Linked DNA regions of Homo sapiens: region 1 is linked to region 2. Evidence: fine-mapped expression QTL. A gene starts in region 2. The other region holds a variant in brackets. All regions are shown on one strand. Distances are between the middles of the regions. Region 1 overlaps ACSF2 (acyl-CoA synthetase family member 2). Region 2 holds the start of ACSF2 (acyl-CoA synthetase family member 2).

Evidence for each region. PIP is the estimated chance that this variant, and not a neighbour inherited with it, causes the effect.
Region 1: its variant is the best candidate, but not a certain one, in a credible set for the expression of ACSF2 in whole blood (TwinsUK, PIP 0.56).

Annotation. Positions count from the first base shown.
Region 1 is chr17:50,450,859-50,459,437 of GRCh38, reverse strand. The region is part of intron 1 of ACSF2 (acyl-CoA synthetase family member 2); the gene reads right to left. Among named protein-coding and RNA genes, the nearest start is that of CHAD, 14 kb to the left of the region's middle. The variant G/A (reference allele first, on the strand shown) is at 5,203.
Region 2 is chr17:50,422,513-50,430,512 of GRCh38, reverse strand. It overlaps ACSF2 (acyl-CoA synthetase family member 2), which reads right to left and starts at 4,295. Exons shown (of 16, transcript NM_025149.6): 1 at 4,124-4,295. The coding sequence starts at 4,251. RefSeq lists a silencer at 4,163-4,482 and an enhancer at 4,219-4,763.

The DNA of each region.
Region 1 (8,579 bases), 29 kb before region 2:
AACCCTGTCTCTATGAAACATTTTAAACAATTAACCAGGTATGGTGGCGCATGCCTGTAGTCCCAGCTACTCCGGAGGTTGAAGGGGGAGGATCACTCGAGCCTGGGAGGCAGAGGTTGCAGTGAGTCATGGTTGCACCACTGCACTTGAGCCTGGGTGACAGAGAGAGGCCCTGTCTCAAACAACAAACCAATAAAACCCAGTGGGACCTGGCAAGTTATCTGTTTACTCTTTGGCTCGAAGGGGATGAAGAGACTGCCTTGCCTATTCCATAGCAGGGCCATGACGTTCAAGCGTGAACAGGCCTGCAAAGGTGCTTTGCGAATGGTGAAGTGCTCTGTAGTCGACAGGCATTTTACCATCCATTCATGGCATTTATCGACCATGCTTTCGACACACATTCAGTGAGCACCCGTATGTGCCAAGTACTATGCTAGGACTAGAGATAGAACAAGCCACAGTCCTTCTTCTAAGAAGCTCCCTGTCTCTGGGGAAATTAGACATATTAGCTCTTCGTGGGTGGGAACAGCCTAGAAAATCAGGAAATGGGAGCCATGAGGCAGACTGTGGGGGGAATCCCAGCCCATCTGAGGCCCATTGTCTGTCCCCTCAAAGCTGGGTTAAGGCAGCCTCTCTTAGACCTGGGCCCTGGGGCCACCCATACTATGGCCTCCTCAGCCCTACGGAGTACTTAGCCAACATTTATTCCTCCAACAAATATTTAGGAAACACCCACCACAGAGAGGGCCCAATGGTAAAAAATGAACAAAGCCAAATACAGTCCCTGTCCTTGCAGAGATAAGGGTCTGGTGGGAAAGACAGGAGTGCAGTCAACCTTGGTAATGATGAATGTATGTTTAGAAAGCTGAGATAAGGAAGGGGCCGTGGTCCTAGGAGCACCTGTAAGACGGAATCTGGGATCACCTGGGGCTCCAAGGAAAACTCCCTTAAGAAATTTATGCCTAAGCTGACAGCTGAAGGGTGAGGAAGTATTAATCATCAGAGAAGGGAGAGGAGGGCTTTTCCAGCAGAGGAGAGCTTGTCTCTGTGGCTGGGGCATGGAAAATGAAAGGGAGTGCTGTGAGAACGGGAGGGTGACTGGAACTTGAACCCAGCTGAAACCAAAGGGTCCAGAGCAGAGGACATTGGGCCTGGAAGAATGAGGAGAGCCCCCAAACTCCAGGTTCTGGGGTTGGGGTTTTCTCCACCCATGGGCCCAAGTGGACCCACATCATTTATGAAGTGAAGAGGGATGGATGGATGTTGGAACCAGGATCTGTGTTTATGGGCTGATCCCTCCCTTGTCCCTCCAGGGACATCAGAAGGAACCTTCTCAACCAGTGTCACTCCCTCCTCCAAGTGACAGTTTTTCAAGATGTGGTCCATGGAGAGCTGCTTCGGAATCATCTCAGGATCTCACAAAGAATGCAAATTCCTGGGCCCCTGCAATGCCTACTCATTGCAGAGCTTCTGGGGAGTGGACCGGGAGAATCTGAATTTTTAACAGAATCCCATGTGATTCTGATGTGGGACTGGGTGAGGATTCTATGAATCACACTTTGACAACCACTCTCTTGGCCATCTAAGCCACCCCAACCGCCTTTGACTCATCTATTCAAGCAAGCTTTAGTGAGCACCTACTATGTGCCAGCCCTGTGCCAGGTACTAGGGATACAGGGATGGATAAGACACTGCTCCCAGCCCTCTAAGTAGCCATAGTGTGGTAGGAAGAGAAATGTATGTAAACAAATCATTTCAACTCTCGGATTAAGGCTATTCGGTAAAGAAGAGAACCAAAAGAAGATAACCTACTCTCTCCTAGGGGTACATGGGACAGAAGTGGGGTTTCTTTCCCCACACTCCTCACATCTCAACTACCAACCTCAGCTCCTCCTGCTTCTCCCCCTTGTAATTTCATTCAATTCCATATGTCTATGAAATCTGTGGGCCCTCAGGGTCTACTGAGATCTGCCAAGGTCTAGAGTGGAAAACTGGTCCTCTTCCCATCCCACTAGTGATGAAGGAAGATGCTGCATGTCCCTCCAAACCTCCACACCCTCCTGGCCAGAGATGGCCACCAATGGTGTGGTCCTCAGCCTAGGGGGCCCTGGGAGCTTCTACCTGGATTCCACCAGGGACTGCCTAGCCCATATCCAATGATGGCCTGGAAGGTCTGGAAGCCAGAGCACATCTTCTCCTATGGGAACAGAATTTGCTCTGTTCACATTCCCACCTAGGTCTGAGTAAGAGCTCAGAAACTGTCACCTAGAGCAGGCCAGTGAGGACACGCAGTCCTAGGAATAGGGTGTGACACCTGGACTTCCCAGAGGTCTTTTTTTCATTTTTTTTTTTATTGTTTGTCTGTTTGTCTTTGAGAAAGGATCTCACTCTGTCAACTGGGCTAGAGTGCAGTGGTGCCACCATGGCTCACTGAAGCCTCGACCTCCCAAACTCAAGCAATCCTCCCATCTCAGCCTCCCAAGTAGCTGGGACTACAGGTGTGTGCCACCACACCCAGCTAATTTTTATTTTTATTTTTTGGTAGAGATGGAGTCTTACTATGTTGCCAGAACTGGTCTCGAACTCCTGGGCTCAAGTGATTCTCCCACCTTGGCATCCCAAAGTCCTGGGATTACAGGTGTGAGCCACCGCACCTGGCCACCAGGCACCTTTTTTATTTTATTTTATTTTTATCATTATTTTTTTAAGACAGAGTTTCGCTCTCGTTGTCAGGCTGGAGTGCAATGGCGTGATCTCGGCTCACCACAACCTCCGCCTCCTGGGTTCAAACGATTCTCCTGCCTCAGCCTCCCGAGTACCTGGGATTACAGGCATGCGCCACCACGCCCGGCTAATTTTGCATGTTTAGTAGAGACAGAGTTTCTCCATGTTGGTCAGGCTGGTCTCAAACTCCCGACCTCAGGTGATCCGCCCGCCTCGGCCTCCCAAAGTGCTAGGATTACAGGTGTGAGCCACCGCGCCCGGCCACCAGGTACCTTTTTATCAGAGGGTGCAGTGTTAAGGATGAGGCTGTTCCCATCTCTTGCAGGTCACCTGTCTGCTTGGCCAAAGCAGTGGATTTACCTCAGCTTCTCTCTTCAGGGTTTCTGTGCCAAGGCTCCAGGTCACTGGCCCTGAGTAGAAACTGAGGAGTACACTGCAGACAAGAGCCTTCTCCTCCATGAAGGACAGGAAGTCAGCCTGGGGGTTTGGATCTCCCAAGGGTGAGGCAACCCCTAAGTTAAATGCACGATGATTACTGGGGTTGGGGCGTGTCAGGCATTTCTAAAGGGGAAAAGTTTGAAGCTGTTCAGGACTCCGGACGGGGCACTCCACAGCTCATTCTGCAGCTGTAGTGCTGGGAAGACCACGTATATCTTCTATTGATTGTTCATGCCTTGTGAGGGACAGTTTCTGGGAGGAACAAATTTCAAGGCAGAAGGAGCAAAACTGGGTTGCCCTGTAAATGGGTGAGGCAGCCACTACCATCCCACTGGAGGGTCTGTCACGACAGGGGCTGATGGAAAGGCTGTTTTCTTAGACTCCTCACCTGGGAAGTGAGGACAAGCGTCACAGTGAAGGAGGAACACTGCTGATGCTCTGAAGCTCGGGGGACACGGGGAGAATGCACCAGGCCAGGGACTCGAGGACCCGAGGTCTCAATGCAGGTGTGCTGCTGGCTGGGTGGGTGATGGGTGTCTTATGTCACAGCTCCTCCGCCCACCCTTGGTTTTAGCTACAGCTGCTGGGGTGGCTCCTTGGGAGTCTGCTGCCTGCTCAGGAACTTCCTCAATGTGGGAGTCCCTGGTTCTGCAGGCCAGCCCAGCCTGGAAGAGGAGCTCATGCCTCCAGGGACAGCAGTCAACCCCATGGGGCTGGAGCTCCAAGTCTCCCCTTTTCTGGGAGGTATCTGTACCTTCTCAGAGGTCCAGGTGAATGAAGCTCTTGTTGCCTAGGGTGATGATGTTAATAACATCCCCTCATCAGCTTCCCCACTCCCTGTTTACTCTCTCTACTTCCTATCCCCACTTCCTAGGATCACTCTCCAAAATAAACTACCTGCACCCAAGTCCTTGTTCTCAGGAGAATTCAAATTAAGACACAGGATTTCTCCTTTCTAAAGCTCACCTTCCCCACCTATAAAGTCTGGGAACTGGCCAGGAATGATGAATCACACCTGTAATCCCAGCACTTTGGGAGGCCGAGGTGGGTGGATCACCTGAGGTCAGGAGTTTGAGACCAGCCAGGCCAACATGGTGAAACCCCATCTCTACTAAAAATACAAAAATAAAACAGGCGTGGTGGTGCACGCCTGTAGTCCCAGCTACCCGGGAGGCTGAGGCAGGAAAATCTCTTGAATCCGGGAGGCGGAGGTTGCAGTGAGCCAAGATGGTGCCACTGCACACTCCAGCCGGACGGCAGGTGTTCAGCCTCACAACAAGCATCCTCCTATTCTCACAATGACCAGGAGTCCCATTTAGTTTGGAACTTGGTTTTCCATTATTCACCATGGTTTTCAGACCAAACAGTGGTCTCCTGGAAATTCTAATTGGGAAATCGGCAGGCTGATTTATGGGGGAAAAAAAAAAATCCAGTTCAATTGGCATATGTGTTTTCTCCTGTGTCTTCACAGCGGCTCTGACAGGTGGTGTGACAGAAACCCCAATAGGTCCTTCTTCTCTCATGACACACCCTCAGACATCTAGCTGGCCACGTTGTGTGGAATAAAGACCAGGTTTCCAAGCTTCCCCGGCAGCCGATCTGGCCAGATGGTGAGGTCCTGGCCAGTGGGGTTTAAAGAGAGATAGTGTGTGCAACTTCAGAGAAGAAACTTTCAGAGGAAGGGACATCTTCTCTTTTTTTTCTTCCTCAGGCTGGAATGCTGCTTGTGACGGGAAAAGAATGGTAGCATTTTGGACCACATAGTGATTTGGGGCACCACAGAGCAACAAGAGAGGAGCCTGACGCCTGGACAGCAGGAGCTACCACACCAGTCACAGACTGGCTGTCTCCCAGATAAAGAAACTCCCATCTCCTTTCTTTTTTCTTTTTTTTGCTTTTGAAAATTAAATTATTTATTTTGGGATATTTGTAGATTGATATGCAGATGTAAGAAATGATATTCAGGCCAGGTACGGTGGCTCATGCCTGTAATCCCAGCACTTTGGAAGGCCAAGGCAGGGGAATTGCTCAAGCCCAGGA[G/A]TTTGAGACCAGCCTGGGTGACAGAGCAAGACCCTGTCTCTAAAAAAAAAAAAAAAAAAAAAAAAATTTGGGACGGTCTTACTCTGTCGCTCAGGCTTGAGTGCAGTGGTGTAGTCATGGCTCACTGACTGCAGCCTGGACCTCCCGGGCTCATGTGATTCTCCCACCTCAGCCTCCTGTGTAGCTGGGACTACAAGTGTATGACCCCATGGTTGGCTATTTTTTTGTATGTTTTGTAGAGATGGGGTTTTGCCATGTTGCCCAGGCTGGCAATTTTTTTTTTTTTAAATTAGCTAGGCATAGTAGCATGCACCTGTACTCCTAGCTACTTGGGACGCTGAGGCAGGAAGATCTCTTGAGCCTAGTAGTTCAAGGTTGATTACACCCACTGCACTCCAGCCTGGGCAACAGAGCAAGAGCCTGTCTCAGAAACAACAACAACAACAACAACAACAGCACACACACACACACACAAACCCAAAACAACAACCACAAAAAACTACAAAAAAGAAACAATACAGAAATAGCTCATGCATTCTTCAGCATCAATATTCAAATTTTCCCAATGTTAACATCTTGCAAAACTATAGTACAATATTATAGCCAGGATATTGATATTGATAATAGTCAAGACACACAACCATTCCCTTGCCCCCATCTTCTTTCAGTCACTCTCAGTTTGGGTTTCTTTGAGACACACTAATATAATCCTAGAAAAATGCAGGTGAGGCCGAGCGCGGTGGCTCACGCCTGTAACCCCAACATTTTGGGAGGCTGAGGTGGGTGGATCATCTGAGGTCAGGAGTTTGAGACCAGCCTGGCCAACATGGTGCAACCCCGTCTCTACTAAAAATACAAAAAATTAGCTGGGTGTGGTGGTGTGTGCCTGTAATCCCAGCTACTCAGGAAGCCAAGGCAGGAGAAGCTTGAATCCAAGAGGTAGAGGTTGCAGTGAGCCGAGATTGTGTCACTGCACTCCAGCCTGGCCCACAGAGTGAAACTCCGTCCCAAATTTTAAAAAAATGTTTAAAAAAATGCAGGTGAGTATCATGAACTCCCATTCCACAGGTAAAGAAGCTGAAGTACAAAGAGATCAAGTGGATCACGTGGCGGATGAACACCCGAGCCAGGAGCAGAGGACCCGGTGCAACTGCCTCAACGTTACAGCCATGCCTGCCCATGCCCCACCCTCAGATCTGGGAGAAAGGAGAGGGCATAGGTGATTCCTGTTCCTTCTGGTTTGGAATTTATCTCCTATCTGATCATCAGAGATAATATAACCTCAATTTTATTATTCCACAATTTCTACTAACTGATCCCAAGAAACTGGGACCAGGGTAGGGCAGGGTTGAGTTGGAAACAGGTGGCTCTTCCAAGGAATTAAAAGAGTTCTACAAACTCATATCAATGCAATGTGCTCATAAACATAGGACCCACCCATCATTTCGAAAGAGGAAGCATAAACAAACCAATTCTCCTTCCTTGCCCACACCACAAATGCCTGGGGCATAAAGGGTGGCCACTTCTTTTTCTTTCTTTCTTTCTTTTTTTTAACTTTATTTTAAGTTCTGGGATACACGTGTAGAACGTGCAGGTTTGTTACACAGGTAAACGTTTGCCATGGTGGTTTGCTGCACCTATCAACCTGTCACCTAGGTATTAAGCCCTGCATGCATTAGCTATTTACCCTGATGCTCTCCCTCCCCCGGCCCCACCCCTCGACCCGACACTTCTTTTTCTATTTTTTCGTTTTGTTTTGAGACTCACTATGTCACCCAGGCTGTAGTGCAGTGGCACAATTACTGCTCACTGAAGCCTCAAGCTCTCAGGCTTAAGAGATCTTCCCATCTTAGCCTCCCAAGTAGCTGGGACTACAGGTATGAGCCACGGTGCCCCAACTTCTATTCTTAAAGGGATTTGGTTTTAGGAATTTTTTTTTTCAATGCGACATGGGAAGCTTAAGGAGTTAGAGGAAAAACAGCAGTGCCAGTTGTTCTCAACTCAGAACTAAAGTAACTACTTGGAAAGGCATCAGCTACTTAGCATGGGTGTTGTAAAACCCAAGGCTCTCAGGGCCCAGGTGGGACTGAGACCAGATAGGAGCCTTGAAGAAACAAAGCACAGCCCCACCTTAAAGGTGCCAGCAGAGGGCTGGCTCCTGAGAACTCAGGCCCAGATCTGAGTAGAGAAGTCAGGAGCAAGAAATTTTATTTTTTAAGAATTCTCTTGACTTTCCAGTGTTGGCAACTAATGTGTTCACTGCTTTATCCCAAGTGTCTGAGTGCCAGGAACATAAGAGGTGCTCAGATGAATGACCAAATGAATGAATTAAAAATAATGCACATAATGACTCAATTAAAAAATAGTAGACATCTTGCTGAAGGTAATCTATGAATGGCTAACAAGCAGATGAAACGCAAATTAAAACCACAATGAGGTACCACATCATGCTCACTTGGAAGGCAAAAAAATAAAATAAAATCAAGGGCTGGGCGCGGTGGCTCACGCCTATAATCCCAGCACTTTGGGAGGCCAAGGCGAACAGATCACCAGAGGTCAGGAGTTCGAGGTCAGCCTGGCCAATATGATGAAACCTTGTCTCTACTAAAAATACAAAAATTAGCCGGGTGTGGTTATGGGTGCCTGTAATCCCAGCTACTTGGGAGGCTGAGGCAGGAGAATCGCTTGAACCTGAAAGGTGGAGTTTGCAATGAGCCAACATTGTGCCATTGCACTCCAGCCTGGGTGACAAGAGCAAAACTCTGTCTCAAAAAAATAAAAAATAAAAAAACAAAATAACAAGTGTTGGCAAGCATGTGAGGACACTGTAATCCTTATATATTGCTAGTGGGAATGTAAAATGATTCAGCTGCTTGGAAAACAGTGTGGTGGCTCTTCAAAAAGTTAAATATAGAATTAGCATATAACCCAGCAATTCCACTCCTAGTTATAATATATGCCCAAAAGAACTGAAAACATGTGTTCAAACAAAAACTTGGGCCAGGCACAGTGGCTCATGCCTGTAAGCCCAGTACTCTCTGAGCCAAGGTGGGAGGATCGCTTGAGCCCAGGAGTTTGAGACTAGTCTGGGCAACATAGTGAGATTCCATCTCTACAAAAAAAATTTAAAAGTTAGCTGGGCATGGTGGTGCACACCTGTAGTCCCAGCTACTCCGGAGGCCTAGCTACTCTGAAGGATCACTTGAGCCTGAGAGGTCGAGGCTACAGCGAGCTACCATTACACCACTACACAACAGGCCTGGGTGACAGAGTGAAACTCTGTCTCAAACAAAACAAACAAAAACCCGTACATGAATGTTTACAGCAGCACTATTCACAATACCCAAAAGGCGGAAACAAACCAAATGTCCAGCAAC
Region 2 (8,000 bases):
TGTATTTTTAGTAGAGACAGGGTTTCACCATATTGGCCAGGCTGGTCTCGAACTCCTGACCTTGTGATCTGCCTGCCTCGGCCTCCCAAAGTGCCGGGATTACAGGTGTGAGCCACTGCACCCAGCCTTCTTTTCTTTTAAAAACCCACTTGTAACTGCTGCTCATCAGATCATATAATCAGGGCAACTTGAGTCTATGCTCCCGGTTGCAGTCTGCAAACATGGCCCAAATAAATCTCTCTACTTATATTACTTTGGCCTCAGATTTTTCCCTTAGGTCCACAGTCTTATATGATCATAGCCATCCCCATGGAGGGTGGTCCACAAAGCCCCCTTACCCCTCTGTCCCCACCATCAGCACCAAGTCACTGGATCCCCAGCTCTGAGCACCACACCTAATTCTGAGAGGCTTTAGCCACTGATCTCTCTGCCTTCCCAGCTCTGAGTGTTCTCAACACCCTGGATGCAGCTGCCTCATAGGCAGCCCCAGGCCAGCTTTAGGGCAGGTCTGGGGGAAGCCTGCTCAGCCCAGGTTTCTCCTTGAATTCCTTCCTTGGAGGTTCACTGAAGCCCCAGACTAAGCCATCCACCTTCTTTGGGGAAGGAGGCACATAGATAGGGGGAAGGAGTTGGTCGTGAGGAGTTCTGGAGAGCAAAGGACAGCTTTTTCTTTCCTTCTGGGGAGAAAGACTCTGGGCCGGGCGTGGTGGCTCACGCCTGTAATCCCAGCACTTTAGGAGGCTGAGGCAGGTGGATTACTTGAGTTCAGGAGTTTGAGACTAGTCTGACCAACATGGTGAAACCCCATCTCCACTAAAAATACAAAATTAGCTGGGCGGGTGGCGCACACCGGTAATCCCAGCTACTTGGGAGGCTGAGGCAGGAGAACTGCTTGAACCCAGGAGGCGGAGGTTACAGTGACCTGAGATCATGCCATTGCACTCCAGCCTGGGGCAACAAGAGCGAAATTCCACCTCAAATAAAAAAAAAAGAAAAAGAGAAAGACTCTGAACAGCCCTGCGTCAAACGGAGAGGAGGACGTCCAGCAGACCCAAGGACTGGACATGTAGCTGGGTGGAAGTCACCATCTTGGCAATCAGCTAGGAGAAATAATTGGGTTCCAGAAAGAGGCCACCAATCAGGGGATCCTCTCCTACTTTCAAATCAGTCAGAATTCCCACCCAGACACCAGTCAAGGGTTTCCAGGGATCAGCCCTGCCTCAAAGGAAAGGCTGAGAACAAGAGCAAGCTTGTTTTATTCATCAGCCCAACAACACAGCAAGAAGGTAGTAAGTAATGAACTAACTAGCTCAGAGGTTAGATAACATGCCCGAGGTCATACAACCAACAGGGAGAGGACCCAGGGCTGTCATCCAGGATAGTCTAACTTCAAAGCCCTTGCTCTTTTCTCTCAGGCAAAACCAGGGTCTGGTAAGTAATAGGCCTGGGTGTTGGGCAACAGGAAAGCAGGCTGTGTGTGAGCAGATCGGAGAAAACAGAGGACGAAAGTCCAAGCGCATTCCTCACCATGGCACTTGCAACACCGAATAGTGCTCACCTTGATTTATTTCTCCTCCTACGAGGCTGCAAGTTCCTGGCAGGGTGAGGACTGAGTTCTGTGGCCTCTATATGCACAGCATGTGCTAGCATGACGCAGAATCTGTTCTCAGGAATGTTTGCTGATGGTTTCAGCCCTGAGGCTTCTTTTTTCATTTTTATTTTTATTTTTTTGAGATGAAGTCTTTCTCTGTCACCCAGACTGGAGTGCAGTGGTGCAATCTCAGCTCAGTGCAACCTCCGCTTCCCAGGTTCAAGTAATTCTCCTGCCTCAGCCTCCCAAGTAGCTGGGATTACAGGCATGTGCCACCACGCCAGGCTAATTTTATATTTTTAGTAGAGATGGGGTTTCTCCATGTTGGCCAGTCTGATCTAACTCCTGACCTCAAGTGATCCGCCCACCTCAGCCTCCCAAAGTGCTGGGATTACAGGCATAAGCCACCATGCTTGGCCTTTATTTTTATTTATTTATTTTTGACATGGAGTCTCCCTCTGTCACCCAGGCTGGAGTGCAGAGGTGCAGTCTTGGCTCACTACAACCACCGCCTCCCAGGTTGGAGCAATTCTCCTGCCTCAGACACCCTAGTAGCTGGTATTACAGGCACATGCCACCACGCCCGGCTGATTTTTGTATTTTTAGTAGAAACGGGGTTTCACCATGTTGGCCAAACCGGTCTCCTGACTTCAAGTGATCTGCCTGCCTGGGCTTCCCAAAGTGCTGGGATTACAGGCATGAGCCACCCACCCAGCCTTTATTTTTATTTTTTGAGTCTAGGTTTTGCTCTGCTGCTCAGGCTAGAGTGCAGTGGCATGATGACGGCTCAATGCAGCCTTGAACTCCTGGGCTCAAGTGATCCTACCACCTCTGCTTTCCAAAGTGCTGAGATTACAGGCATAAACCACCTTGCCTGGCCTGAGCCCTGAGGCTTCTGAAGGGGAAAGTAGGAGAGAAATCAGGTAAAACCATCACAGTCAGACAATAAGGGTGCAGGCACAAGGGAGTGGAAGGGGCAGAAAGAAAGTAGGCCAAACACTCAGAAAATCATCTGTCTGGATAAATGAGTCTCCTCCTGACACAGCAATAAGAATTTCTCTGAAGCTTGGTGCTCTCAGAGGTCCCAGGGCTGTAGCAGGTAAGTGACCTGTTTTGTTTATAGATAAAAAAAAGTCAAAGGTCAGAAATGTTGCCATGTGGCCTGATTTATTACTTATTTATTGGTTTGTTTGTTTGTTTTCTATTGGGCAGCCTCCTGAGCCAGAGTAGGCTGAGAGACTTCCCCTGTGGCCTGATTTAGTGTGATAAAATATGTACACTTTGGGAAGTAACTTTCCTCAGAGTCCTCCCAGCCTGAGGGGGCAGCCATGAGTCCAGAGGAGAGGCTTAAGAGACTAGGGGGTCAGGGGAGGGCCGAACTTGTCTAGGGAGACCCTGGGAAGTAGTGAGTGACTTCCCAGGGTCACTGGGAAGAGGACCCCACTGTCCTCATCTCAATCCCATCTACTGACCAGCCTTGATCCACTTAGTTTTCTCAGCAAATTAGGCAGAGTGATGTTAAGGCATTGCATGCTTTCTAGCATTCAGAAATCAGCAAGTTCAGAAAGTGTGATCTTGGAGTTCTAGCCAAAAAGGAGTCTGCATGTCCCTCCAACTCTTCCTACTTAGCCTTTTTAAAAACAAAAACAAATCTAGTTCTCTGAGACACAGCTTTGTTCTGACTTCTCCCTTTTCCATGTCCAGGCCCACACCCCATCTGATGTTGCTGAAAGTGCTGTCCTGACCATAGACTTAGTATCTGGCCGAGTTGAGTGGTAGGACAGGCTCAGTAGTGCACAGGGCTCCCCAGTGGTGCTGCTGAAGCTAACAGCCCTGATAACATGAGTGGCAGCCTGCTCTCTGTGTCTCAAGCACTTTCACATTTGCCATCTCACGGGGTCCTCCCAAGGACTGGTCACACCGGGAAGGCAGCTTTACTTACTGTGCTGCTGCAGAGGCAGTGAAGCTACTGGGAACTGAAATCCTCTGCCTGCCAGCTTCCATCCCACCCCTTGCACTGAGGACAGAAGGAAATAGGCCCAGGAGTAGGCAGCAAAGAATTAAAGCCATGTTAGTGAGCAGCTGATGAGGAGACAGGAGACTGCTAAGTTTAGTGGCCTGGGTCGGGGAGACTGGGGCTGATCCCCAAGTTTGCCCATGAAGGGGTTCCAACTCAGAGGCAGTGTCCTGGGGGTACAGCCCAGGCCTTGGCCCTTGCCCCTCCCCATCGGAATATTCTCCTTAAAGCCCACACTCCTTGCCCTCTGTGCCCATAAAGGAGAAGGAATCGAGAGTCTTGGACCAGAACTCGAAGTCACTGCAGCCACCAACCAAAGCCCCCTCCCCACCCAAGTCCACCAGGCCAAGCCAGCTTTTCCTATTGCCTAGGTGCTGGCGGGGGGCGGGGGAGGGGCGGGTACCTTCCCCCCAGTGCACTCGTCCAGAGGTGGGGCTTCCGAAGCTCGCCGGGACCTCCAAGTTCCTCTCCCGGGGAACTGCCCCGCCCCCTCTCTTCCCGCGGGGGGCCAGTACCTGAGGAAGCGGACACCCTGCAACCTGGCTTCCTGCCAACTCCGAGAGAGGGCGGCCCGGGCCCCCAGCACCCCCGAGCTCCCGGCGCACAGCCTCCCCAGGCGCAGCATCCCGACGTAGACAGCCATGGCTCGCTTTGCCCTGCGTCCCGGCCCGAGTAAACTTTTAAAGTGAGCCGGGGCGGGGCGGGCGCGCAGCGGGCGGGGAGGCGGGGAGGGTGGCCTCTGCCTATGGGGTGCGGCGGATTCGGTCTCCGCCGGCGGGGCGGGGCGGGGCGCGGCGGCGGCGACTTCGCGCGGGGCCACCTTCCCCTCCGACCCCGCGGCCCTCCCCCTCCCACCCTCGAAGAATAGCCCTGGTTTCCTCTGGATCCGAAGGCCCCAGCTGCAGTCCGAAACAGATCTTCCTCGCGACCATCCTCAGGGGCCTGGATGTTAGAAGCGCAAAAATTTGTTGATTTCCTAGAGGGAGAGCCAGCAGCACATCCGTGAGGGGCCAGATGGCAAGGTCAAGATCCATCCATCCCCTGCCCCCTCGGGTCACGTGCTGGCCCCGCTACTTGCGAGCCGGGGGCCAAAGGAGCAGGCGCGAAGCGTCCTTGAGGCATGCCAGCTGGAGCAGAGGGCCCCGCGGGGTTGGGGAGGCAGCCAGAACAAAGGGTGTCGCGGGTGAGCCCCCTGCGGGCCCGCTGGCGCCAGAGTCCCAGCTGAGGCCAGATGTCAGCTTCAGAAGGAACACCAGTTGTACCCCATCTCACAGGAGGCATCCTCCCATCCCTCCTCGGCGCCTCTGCCTTGACCTTCTGCACAGGGTTGGGGGCCGGACACGTAAGGTGGCCTCAGGGACTGGGACCTGTGTATTTCATCCTCCATCTGCCTGTCTTGGGGCCTGTGGCACAGTTCCCTGTGCTGCCCCAGGTGTGAATGGAAAGCAACCCTATGCCCCTCCTTAGGGTTCCTGAGGCCCAGGGGTGAGTGGGGTACTAAGACCTGGGCAGAGCTGCGGGACAGAGAAGGTGATAGCTCTGGTCCTGGCTAGGAAAAGTGGCACTGGGCACCAAAGAGTAGCACAGTTTATACCTGTTCCAGGTCCACACTGCCTCGGCCTAGCCATGACTCTTCCTCTAGAGAAGGAGCTGGAGAAGAATGGGGCAAAGGCCCTGGCAGTGTGACCTCCCCTCTCCTGACTGGAGGAGATGAAGTAAACCCTGCCAGGCAGAAGGGGTGGCTGAGAGTGGAGCCTGGCCTGAGGTGACCTTTGCCCTTATCTGGGAACTCTGGCTCCACTTGGGTCATGAGAAGGAGTCCATGCTGGGCCTCTTTATGATCTTGAGCGTGACCTCAAATCCTCCCTGGAACCCCGGTTCCTAGGGAGGGTCCCCACACTTCAGTTTCTGTGGGGTTGGGGCAGGAAGAGACAGAGGAACAAAGAGATCACCGGAGGCTGGGCCTGCAAGGGTGTGCTTTCCTAATTAGACTAACTGTCTTTGATAGCGGACCAGGGAATGTGGAGGGCTGGGGCATTCACAAGTCTGGGTTCCCAGCCGTGGCTGGCAGGCTTAGCCTCTAGCATGCTGGGTGACCCTGGGTAAACCACTGTCCCTCTCTTGGCCTATGAAGTGTGGGGTGGGTACTGATCTTGTAGGTCCTTCCACTCTTCTGGCTAGTTTGAGGGTCAGTCCTAGAGTGGGAGAGAAGTGAGTTCCTCCTTGAACTTTGCTCCAGCCTCGGCTTTTCAAGACACTGGGCTTTCCTGACTCTTCCTAGGTGCACAGGCCGTGGCATCATAGCCATCAGTTTCAGGGTATCTTGTACATGCCAGGCTCTTCAAGGACATTTTCTCTGACCCTCACAAACACCCTGCAAGGAACAGGCATGGCTTGGAATGTGTCTTTGTTTTTATGGATGAAGAAACTGAATCCCAAAGAGGTTCAGCTTCTTAAACATAGGCCAAAGCTCTGCCAGTAGTCTCTTTGTGGCTTTGGGCAAGTCACGGGGCCTCTCCAGCCTCGTTATCTGTCAAATGGGGATAATAATACCAACTTCACGCAGAGGGCTGGGTAAGAATTGAGTAGGTGGCACAGAACTGGTAGTCGGCCAGTTTTCAGTGATTGTTTCTTTTTCCATCCTCTCCTTCCTCTTGTGTCTTCACTCTAAGACCTTCCTCTGTGTAGGAATTGCAAACCTTTTTTAGGAGGGAGAATTGTTTTATTTGTGCAAAGCCCTGGTAGGCACTGGTTCTGTGGATGGGGAGGAGGGCTGGGAGAAAGTCAAGACGGCTGGTGGAAGTCCGTGAGTCATGGTGGGGGAATCACGTTGACCCGCATTCTTTGGCTAGTATAAGGAAGTGGGGAGCAGGGCAGTGGGCCATCCAGGCTCTCCAGCTTCCCTTCCCTTCCCTTTAACCAATTAAATTCCCCGTTGCTCCCCAAGGGGCCTTCTGCCTGAGCCATCACATCTCCTTTATGCTGCATGTGACTTGCATGATTTATGGTCCCTGTAATTTGGCTCATGCCATTGGCTACCATGAGAAAGCCCTTATTCCCGCCCCTTTGCCCATGTCTTGCTTCTGTGCTTCAAAAGCAGGCTCAAAATGTAAACACCATTTATTGATTTTTTTTCTTTCATAACATCAACCTACAGAAGACCTAGTCACAGTTACAGAATAGAATGTAAATGTAAGTATCACTAACTTTGGAAGTTACATCTGATAGTAGTTGAGAGGGAAGGGGTGGGGGAGAGTATAAAATAAAAAAAAAGGGTATGTCATTATGTACAAAAATAATAATAAAACTATAGTACCAGCACTTAGGGAGGAGAGATGGGGTGCAAGTACCCATTTATCAAACAGAAAATCTAAAACTGGCAAAATAAGTATGTCATTTAGAGGCAAGTAGCAGAAGAAGATAAATCAGAAATCGTTACAATAGTTCAAATGATTCTCTTTGGACTTAAATAGATATTTCACCAAATAAATATATATATGTATGTATGTATGTATATATTGACCCCAAGAGTTTGAGGCTGCGGTGAGCTGAGATCACACCACTGCACTCCTGCCTGGGTGACAGAGCAAGACCCTGTCTCAAAAAAAAAAAAAGAACACCCGCAAAAAAACAGAAAATAACAAGTATTGGTGGGGTTGTGGAGAGACTGGACACGTGTGCATTGGGTGGTGGGAATGTAAAATGGGGCCACCACAGTGGATGGTATGGTGCTTCCTCAAAAAATTAAAAATGAGTTATATGATCCAGCAATTCTACTTCTGGGTATATACCCAAAATAATTGAAAGTCGGGACTCCAACAAACATTTGTGTACCAATGTTCACAACAGAATTGTTCCCAATAGCCAAAAGACAGACACAACCCAAATATTCATCAATGATTGAATGGATAAACAAATGCAGTAGATCCATACAATGGAATACTATTCAGCTTTCAAAAAAGGAAGGAAATTCCCACACATGCTACAGTCCACATGAACTTTGAACACATTGTGCTAAGTGAAATAAGCCAAACACAAAAGAATAAATACTGTATGATTCCATTCATATGCGACACCTAGAGTAGTCAAATTCTTAGAGACAAAGTGGAATGGTGGTTGCCAGGGGTTGGGGGTGTGGTGGGGGAATGGGGAGTTATTATTTGTTTAATGGGTATAGAGTTTCAGTTTAGGAAGGTGAAAGGTTTTTGGAGATGAATGGTGGTAATGGTTGTATACCAATGTGAATATACTTAATGCCACTGAACCATAACCTTAAAAATGGCTAAAATGATATATTTTATTTATGTCTATTTTTCCACAACTTTTAAAAAAGCTTTTCTTTGGGGCATAGCAGTGGGAGGAAGAGTGAGGGCAGAGAACAGGCTTTTGTTA